Regions from separate parts of the Homo sapiens genome. Here region 1 is linked to region 2. Evidence: fine-mapped expression QTL. A gene starts in region 2. The other region holds a variant in brackets. All regions are shown on one strand. Distances are from middle to middle. Region 1 overlaps LINC01182 (long intergenic non-protein coding RNA 1182). Region 2 holds the start of LINC01182 (long intergenic non-protein coding RNA 1182).

What was found. PIP is the estimated chance that this variant, and not a neighbour inherited with it, causes the effect. A credible set is the group of variants that fine-mapping cannot tell apart.
Region 1: its variant is the best candidate, but not a certain one, in a credible set for the expression of LINC01182 in atrial appendage (GTEx, PIP 0.82).

Annotation. Positions count from the first base shown.
Region 1 is chr4:13,711,434-13,715,831 of GRCh38, reverse strand. All of the region lies in intron 2 of LINC01182 (long intergenic non-protein coding RNA 1182), which reads right to left. Among named protein-coding and RNA genes, the nearest start is that of LINC01182, 58 kb to the right of the region's middle. The variant T/A (reference allele first, on the strand shown) is at 1,870.
Region 2 is chr4:13,653,068-13,657,465 of GRCh38, reverse strand. LINC01182 (long intergenic non-protein coding RNA 1182) reads right to left here and starts at 2,287. Exons shown (of 4, transcript NR_121681.1): 1 at 2,115-2,287. RefSeq lists an enhancer at 2,713-2,762.

The DNA of each region.
Region 1 (4,398 bases), 58 kb before region 2:
GCAGGAGAATTTCCCACAGGTGGTTACTTTGTGAGAGAAAAAAAGGGAAAATCCAAGACTTCGCCCTTGGGAATGAGCGTTTGGCAGCCTCCTGGGACTGGAGAAGACCAGGTCTCCCTTTCTCAACAATCCCATCCACTTTCTTTCCCAGAAGACCCACATTCTGCTTTGTTGTGTTTCTAACCAGCTGAGTCTAACATTGGCTTTCTTTTACATTACTGCCCCAGACAACACTTTGTGGCAGAAATGAAGCTGCAGCAAGAATAAATCCTGTTTGGTTAATAGGATTTATTAACTGGGTTAGCAAGGTCTGCCTGAAACAGCTGATGACTGTCCAGCCAAATGCAACCCAGTGCCATAACATCCATTCATTTATAATTGTTTAACTAAAATAAAATGAAATAAACAGAGAAATTTCCTCATTTACCTTATCATCCATCCCCCTGTCCAAAACAGCCTTTAGTCCTATTAGATAAAGGATGGCCTCAGCTGGAAAAGCAAGAGAAATAACAGTTTATGTGGCAGCTTTTATTTATAGAGGGCCCAGGTAATCTAAGTATAATTTAAGGAATGGTTTCCCCATGTTTTTCTCCCAAGGGTAATTTTAACTATAAATGATTTTCACTTTATAAGCAAATTCTAGAATCTTTAACTCTTTTCTACCCCTACGTTCATTCCTGTGTAGGATTAGACTCTACTCTTACCTAGGCAAAAGGACAAAGAGAAGTTGGGTGGATTTGAGAGCTCTCCAGATGCAGATTTTAGGACTTGGTAATGGATGAGATGCCACAAGGAAGAGGAAAAAATTCCAGGATGACTCCCAGGTTCCACTTTTGGCAACTGGGCATGTCCATGAACTTCCTCATCTTCCCAATGCTTAGCACGTCAGGAACAAGCAATCGCTCTAAATCTGCAGAGGAAACCAGCCTCAAAAAGGTTCCATTTGTCCTTGATGATCCAGAGGATAAAATAGTACACACCTACATATAATTAACTAAAAGAAGAGTAATATAAATATGAACATAGGTTTGTAGCAGAAAAGTTACAGACACCTAACTTGAACCAGATGAATCTACACAAGAAAACCCACTGTAATTTCAGGCTATTTAAATACCATGCATTTCTTAGTTAGAAAGCCTTGTCTAGATAAAGGTAAAGTTTTCATATTTGCACTGGGTTTAAGTTCTTCTTGCCTTGATATGCCCGAAGTGTCTGCAAGTTTGAGAATCATCAAGCACTTCTTACTATGCACAGCCCCCTAGCACTCCTGAAAACACCCTCCCTATATGAGTTTTCTTTGTTTATAAACACACGGGCCAAGGTGCAGACCCAAAGAAATGCATCACTTTTTTTGGACTTTCACTCTCACAAAAGAACTACCAAATGTCTAATGAGTGCCTAAATATGCAGGCTTAGGGCAAGGGACATATCTTAGAAATGATGGGAATATTGTCCAGTTCTTTACAAGCCTTTTCCTTCAGTGATTCTCCAACTTTCCAGCAGTGGAGATGGCCATGAGAGCACATGAAAGTGGCTGTGTACTGCTGGGAAATGCTAAAAGCCTGAAGTGAATGCCACAAAAGAAAAACTTTCATAATCTCATGTTTTAGATTAGCATTCAGGAAAGTTGTATATTATACTTCTAAACATGTGTTTGTTTTTGTATTATGATGATAGAAGAAGATGCACCACCCTTGTGCTATAGGTTTATATAACTCCTGTCAATCACCATGTGTCCAGATGTAGCCATATCTTAGTGTAAGGAACAATAACTTCAAGTTTATGTAAAGATGTCACTCTGCCACACAGCTGGCACAACACAGACATGGGGCTTCACCCATCCCATACTGATATCAGCCATATTCCCAG[T/A]CTCTTCATCCGGACCCATCTTACTCTCTGCTTGCCAGTCTATCCACAATTTAATCCATTTCTAATCCACCATTTCTCTTCCTTTCATGACTTCACTTTAAACCAGTTCTGGGCACTGTTTTCTAACTTTGACCTTTAGCTTGCCCCTTCATCCTCATTTTGGAGACTCCATCTGGCTATATTGTTTTGATATGCCTTGGTTTCTCTTAGACTCTGTTTCTGCCTTTGCCAAGACCTTCATGTCTCCCTGGATCCACATTCTCCCTAGAACCACAAGTGAATCCCAGAAAACCAAAGAAGTTAATATTTGTCTCCTAAAGAATTAAGAAAGCAAAACCTGGCTTAAGTAAATATTCAATATATCCATACCCTTGGGCTGTCATAACAAATTTCCACAAACTGGGTGGCTTGAAATAATACAAATTTATTCTCTCACAGTTCTGAAGGCTAGAAGTCCAAATTCAAGATGTCAGCAGGTCCAAGCTCCCTCCAAAAGCTCTAGAGAAGAATCCTTCCTTGCCTCTTCCAGCTTCTGGTGGTTGCCAATAATCTGCTTATAGCTGCATGACTCCAATCCCTGCCTGCATCTTCACATGTGTTCTCTTGTATGTCTGTCTCTGTTTTCTCTTCTTAAAAGGACACCATCATAGGATTAGAGCCCATCCTAACCAAATATGACTTTCTATTAAATTATTACATCTCCAAGGACCTTATTTCCAAGTAAGGTCATTTTTGAGGTTCCAGGTAGACATGAATTTTAGGGGGAAATATTTGACCCAATATTCCAAGAAGTGTTGATTCCTTTCTTTATAATGGCAGGAAAGGGAGAGATGATGGGCTACATGATATGTATTAGAATCTAATTTGTCAAATACTGTTTTATAGGTCTGATGAAGTTCTTCAGCTCCAGCGTCCTCTCTGAGACACCTTCTTGTCACCAGACACCGCATATGCTTTAAGGTACCTGAGTTAATCACCCCAATTTGTAATGTCTCATTAATAATTCTGGTAGCATTTCATCTTGCATTTGTTGTGGAAATGTGGACTATGCCAGGCACACACCACAGTTCTAAGATGAATCAAATCCCAAATATTCTTGGTTACTTCTTTTGCCTTAACAAGACTTTAACTACCTCAATGGAAGATACACTAGCTAATCAATGACTGATGTTTATATCCTTCATAGCAAGTGTTCACTAAGTGCTTTTGAATTAAATAATACCAATAACAACATGCTAACAGTCACTGAGAGTTTGCTATGTTCTAGGTCAACACTGCCCAGTAGAAATAAAATACGAGCCACATCTGTTATTTTCAAATATTCTGGTAGCCTCATTTGTAAAACAGTAAAAAGAAACCAATAAAGCTAATGTTAACAATATATTTTATTTAACCTAATATTCCTAAAATATTATTTCAATACAATATAGTCAAATTATAATTTTAATATTTTAAAATTATTAATAAGACATTTTGCATTTTTATCCTAAGATTTAAAAATTCAGTGTGGATTTTATATTTATAGCACATCCCAATTCAAACTAGCCACATTTTCAGTGCCCAGCAGCCACACACAACTAGTGACTACTGTATTAGACAGTGCAGTTCTAGATGCTATGTTAAATACTTTACAAGCATAATTTATTTAAACATCATAATAACCTGCAAGGGGATATTATGTGTGTTCCCAATTTTCAGATGATGAAACTGAGGTTGAAAGAGGTTACATAATTTGCCCAACATGACAGAACCATTCTATGCTTTTAACGGCTGTGGCTGTGCCACATTGCCACCAACCTGGATAGATGGATGAGTGGATGAATATAAAGTTCTTTTTTAGGTTATTCCTTGGATTCTGAGGTTTTTTATTCCCTTTCTCCATGATTCTTTCTCTCCATCGAGAGAGTACACACACACACACACACACACACACTCATACACTGGACCAATATTTTTCCATCTTCCTCAAATTAATCACCACCTGTGTCAAAATCGCCTGAATTCCCCGGTTTCCCAGGCCCTACTCCTAGATTATTCTCATCCAACAGATCAAAGAGAGCTTAGAAATCTGTGCTACTAATTTCCAGGATTAGGATTCTGATGCCTGTTAATGCAATGTTCACAATTTTGGCTCATCTTAGGTCACCTGGAGCTCATGCCTGAGCTCCGTCCACAAAAATTTTCCTATAAATAGTCTGGGATGAGACGTGAGCATCAGTTTCTTTTAAACGGACAGCTGGCGTTGAAAATCCTACACTGACATTTGAGTTCCACTCTCAGCCATGCTTCTCTGCTCCTTGCCAGTCTGGATAATTATGCATGATAATGTTTAGAAGAACCCAGAGGGATGAATTTAAAATTGTCTAGTTGCCAGGTGTCCAGGTGGTCAATTAGGACAATGAGCCAAACTGAAAGTAACAACTAAGCATTTATTCACTTACTACAACAATGCAAGCAAGATGCAAAAAGAGGTGCTGGCTCCCCTGTGGTCCGTTTTTCCCTACAGAATGGCACTGGGCAACAGTCGAG
Region 2 (4,398 bases):
ACCCTTGTGGGAAAACAGGTACAGAGACTGTGGGGGGCAGACAGGGACAAAAGAGAGAGAGACACTGCCTTCTGCTTATTTTGTGTGGTATAGGAAGAAAATATTTAAACGTTTCTACTTTAGATACAGTCTGGCTTCCAATTCCAGTTCTATCATTTTCTAGCAACATAAATTTGGGCAAGTTGCTCAGCCCCTCTGAGCTTTAATCTCCTCCTTAGCAAAATGGCTCTGGTGACACACCCTTCCTTGCGTTGTGAGTGTGTAAGGCAGGTATGGTACCAGGCGCCGAGATAAACATTCATCTAACAGTCCCTTCCTCTTTTACCTTTTGTTTGTTTGTTTTTACTTTGGCACCATTTATGAAGGTCCAAAATAAATCCCTTTTTTATTTGTTTGGTTGTTTGTTTGTTTTGCCTTCTAAATCCTGAGTCTCATCTACAAAGTGGAAAAAAAAAAAAGGCTGTGAATTTCCATAATGTAAGTTTCGTTTTCTATGACTCGATTATGGCAAGTGATGTATAAAGGCTGAGTGGAGTGACAAGGAGGGGCACAGAGAAGAGGGAGGACAAACTTTACACCAGCAAATCCAACAATCGGCCCCTTTTGAAAAATCATTAGCAGCCTGCTGGAAGCTCCAAGTCTCCCAGATTTGGGATATGAGAGAGTAACAACATGAATCTAGAAAATGTGGTGCCTTTCGTGCATAGATTTGAATTAGAGAATTCTTGGTCAGTTTTGCATATGAAGTTGGGGAGAAGGCGTGGGCGGCGCAAAGAAAAACAGAGAAACACCTCCCCCTGCTGCCTGGATGGCGAATAGCAGCAAAGATGCAAAAAAAAAAAAAAAAATTCCATGGTCATATAAAAACCCTCAGCCTATTCCGAGGGTTTGCAAAGGATTCACTATGTGCAGGCAGCTGAATTTTATGGAATGCATTTTCCTATCCTAAGTTACCTTCAAAGGTCATAAAAAATGATCTTAGGACATTATTACAATGATGATGCTTTCCACTGGGCATGTTGTTATTTGTTTCTTGAACAGGAAATATATTAGCGTAACTTTTAAATTAAAATGATATAAAAGTTATAATTGAAAAGTCTTGTTTCTGACTGCCTTACGTATACCTAGCTACTTTTATTAGCTTTTCATATAAATATAAGTAAATGTGACTAATGTAGTCTTCTTTTTTTCCTTCTTACACAATAATTAGCTGTTTGACACTCTTCCGGATATTGTTTTTGTCACTTAACAACATAACTTGGTGATCCTCCCAGAGCCGAAAAGCTCTCCCAGATATGTTTCAGGGCAGCGTAACCTTCCTTGTTCTTCCTTCACTGAGCATGTTATATGTGGAAAGAACACATCCCCACTTGGGGAAACCAGATAAATTGTTTAAATTATTGCAAATGTGAATGATTTTAATGTAGAAATAACCTTTTTCATTCCACATTAATCACAAATACTGTTCACAACCCTTCGTAATAAACTTGTCTCCTGCTTATTTTTTTTTTTCTGGTATTCCTTGTGATTAGAATCTCTCGCCTTGGTATCCGCTGTGTTCAAGAGCAGAACAGAGCTTTGAACTTTACAGGCTAGTGCTCAGAATTAAAAGTGCTTAATGCCACCAAGATTTCTATTAAAAAACCCAGGGTAAAGGAAAAAGCCTTTTGCTTCAGCTGAAATGTTCTTGTAAAGGGCAAAATGGAAAATACAAACACCACTGCCGTTTGCTGGTTGGATACCACAGCCATCGGCACCTCCTGGAAATGGCAAGCCCATGAGTTCCTGATGGAAGCCAAGGTTAGTCTTATTGCATTTGAGAGAGTTAGAAAAGTGTCTTTCAGTGTGGACAGAGAGCCAGCAAGATTGTGAAGGTCAAAGAAAAATCCAATTATCCATAGCAAACACTGACCATACAATTAAATTACACCAGTCAGGAAAGCATCTGATCTTCTGCAACGGACTTCTTCCAGCAAATTTACCCTTGAATCAGTCTGGGCCATTCATTGGCAGCCAGCTGATCAGTTTCCTTCTGCTGCCCTGCATCCTGCAACATGTCTGTAGCAGATGTATCACTGCCCACCTACATCCCCTTGGCCCACCCCAGAGGTCACCTGCAGCTGCAGTGGTCAACTCCCAAGCACGCAGACATCTCAGCATCAAGAACCTGCTTCTCTCTGCCCAAGGGCTTTTTCTGGCCATAGAAGTATCCCCTGCACAGTCCAGATATGCAGGCTGGACAGAAGTTCCAGGGAGCTACCATTCCCAAGAGCAAGCCTCAAGCAATGCCTGGGAGATAAACACCCAGCTCCCTTGCTTGCCCCTTGCCTTGCTGGGGCAATGCCAAAGTGTGTGGTGCCCATACTCTCAGAGGGACACCAGTGCGACTGAGCCCCAGGTGGGACCTACTCATTAACATGCTGTTTATTGGCTTTTCTCTCTTCCCTACTGTCTCATCATTTTTCTGGGATTGACTCCTGTGAGAGCCTTGATCCAGTCAAGAGACAGAAACTACACAGTAAGTTCAACAGGACAAGTGTAACACAGAGTCATTAACTACAATGAAGAGTATAGATATAAGGAAACTCTACAAAGCAACCTAGAGCTACGAGGGAGAACTTAGGAAAAGACGAACTTGAGAAGGATTCAGACCTCTTGGGAAACGGTGAGGTTCAGCCCACGAGACAGCAGAGAAGTTAGCTGCTTTGGCTAGGCTGGAGCCGGCCTGGAATTGCTGGGAACCTCCAGGTGCAGCCAGCCTCCGTTGTGCACGCAGGGGGCGCCAATCAGCAACTGATGGTGAGGGATGGAGCCCGGGAGCTGGCGGGGGCTGCAGGAGGCTGCAGAAGGAGCGGAGCGGCTACTCAACGCCTGACCCTGCCAGCTAAGTGCAGCTGCACACAGGCCGAGCAGAAGCTTGCAAAGGGAGGCTGAGTCCCGGACCCAAGTGTAGCAAGCAGGGAAAGGGAGGGTAGGGCACCGGTAAGGGCAGGAGCCCTTCGGAGGCTCACTCTGTGCTGGGGAGCTCTGCTTTCCATGTCAAGAAGCCTGCACAAAAATTATCACCAAGCCGGGGCTGCAAAGTCACAGAAGGACCAGTTCCACCCGCTGTCCTCGTCCACCCACACTACTGAGCCGCGGTCCCCGCACAACCGGCGGAAACCCTCCTCCAGCTGCGGTGTCCTCCGGCGCCCTCTACTGAGGAAGCCTAGCATCGCGCGCACTTAAAGGAGACGGGCTCAAAGGCACGCCTTCGTTAGTCCCAGAGCATAAATTAATAAAGGGTCCATTCAGAGCTGAGAGGCACAAAAAAAAATTTTTTAAAAAGATAAATACACCTCCAAAGTCCCACTTGCACTCAAACCCTTGTCTCAGGATCTGCTTTTGAAAGAACCCAAATCACGACAATGTCAGACAGAGATGTGATTTTTGTTGACAAAAAGAGTCAGACTCTAAAATATTTAAAGAGATTTATTCTGAGCCAAATATGAGTCACTAATGGCCCATGACATAACCTTCAGGAGATCCTGAGAACATGACCCCAAGGTGATTGGGGCGTCACCTAGATGTATACATTTTAGGGAGACGTGAGACTTCAATTAAATACATTTAAGACATACATTGTTTCAGTCCAGAAAAGGGAAAGTGGGGAGGTCTGCTTCCAGTTGTAGGTAGATTTAAAATTTGTCTGATTTGTCAATTGGTTGAAAGAGTTACTATCTCTAGAAAGAAATGTCTCGGTTACAATAAGAAGTTGTGGAAACCAAGGTTTTATCACGCAGATGAAGCCTCCAGGTAGCAGGCTTCAGAGAGAATAGAATGTAAATGTTTCTTATCAGACTTAAGGTCTGTGTTGATGTTAAATGCTGGCCACGTTTCCTGAATTCCTAAAGAGAGTAGGGTATAACGAGACATGTCTGACACCCCTTCCCGTCATGGCCTGAACCAGTTTTTCAGGTTAACTTTGGAGTGCCCTGGCCAAGAAGGGGTCCATTCAGATGCTTGGAGGGGCTCTAGAATTTTATTTTTTGTTAATATTTTAATCTTGGCTCTGTATGACCTCAAGAAAGGGTTTTATCAGCTTAGAGTCTCCACTTTCTCATCTGCAAGATGGAGGTGATAATAAACAGTCCACCTCACAGGGACTATTCTTGAGAGAATGAAACAAAATAGACCACCTGCTATGCACTTGGTACAAAATAAGTGCTCAAAATAAGTGCTCAATATCACCTCCCTTCCTCCTTTTCAAACCAAATCAAAGCCCCAAAGTTTCTTCTTCCTTTCTTTAAGTAAGAGTCAAGGTATGAGAATGCTCCAAGCTACTCTGCTCAAGACATTTTTCCCTTAAATTTGGCCCAGGCCATCTTGGAGGAAAATGGAGAGATTAGAAGGAGGCCT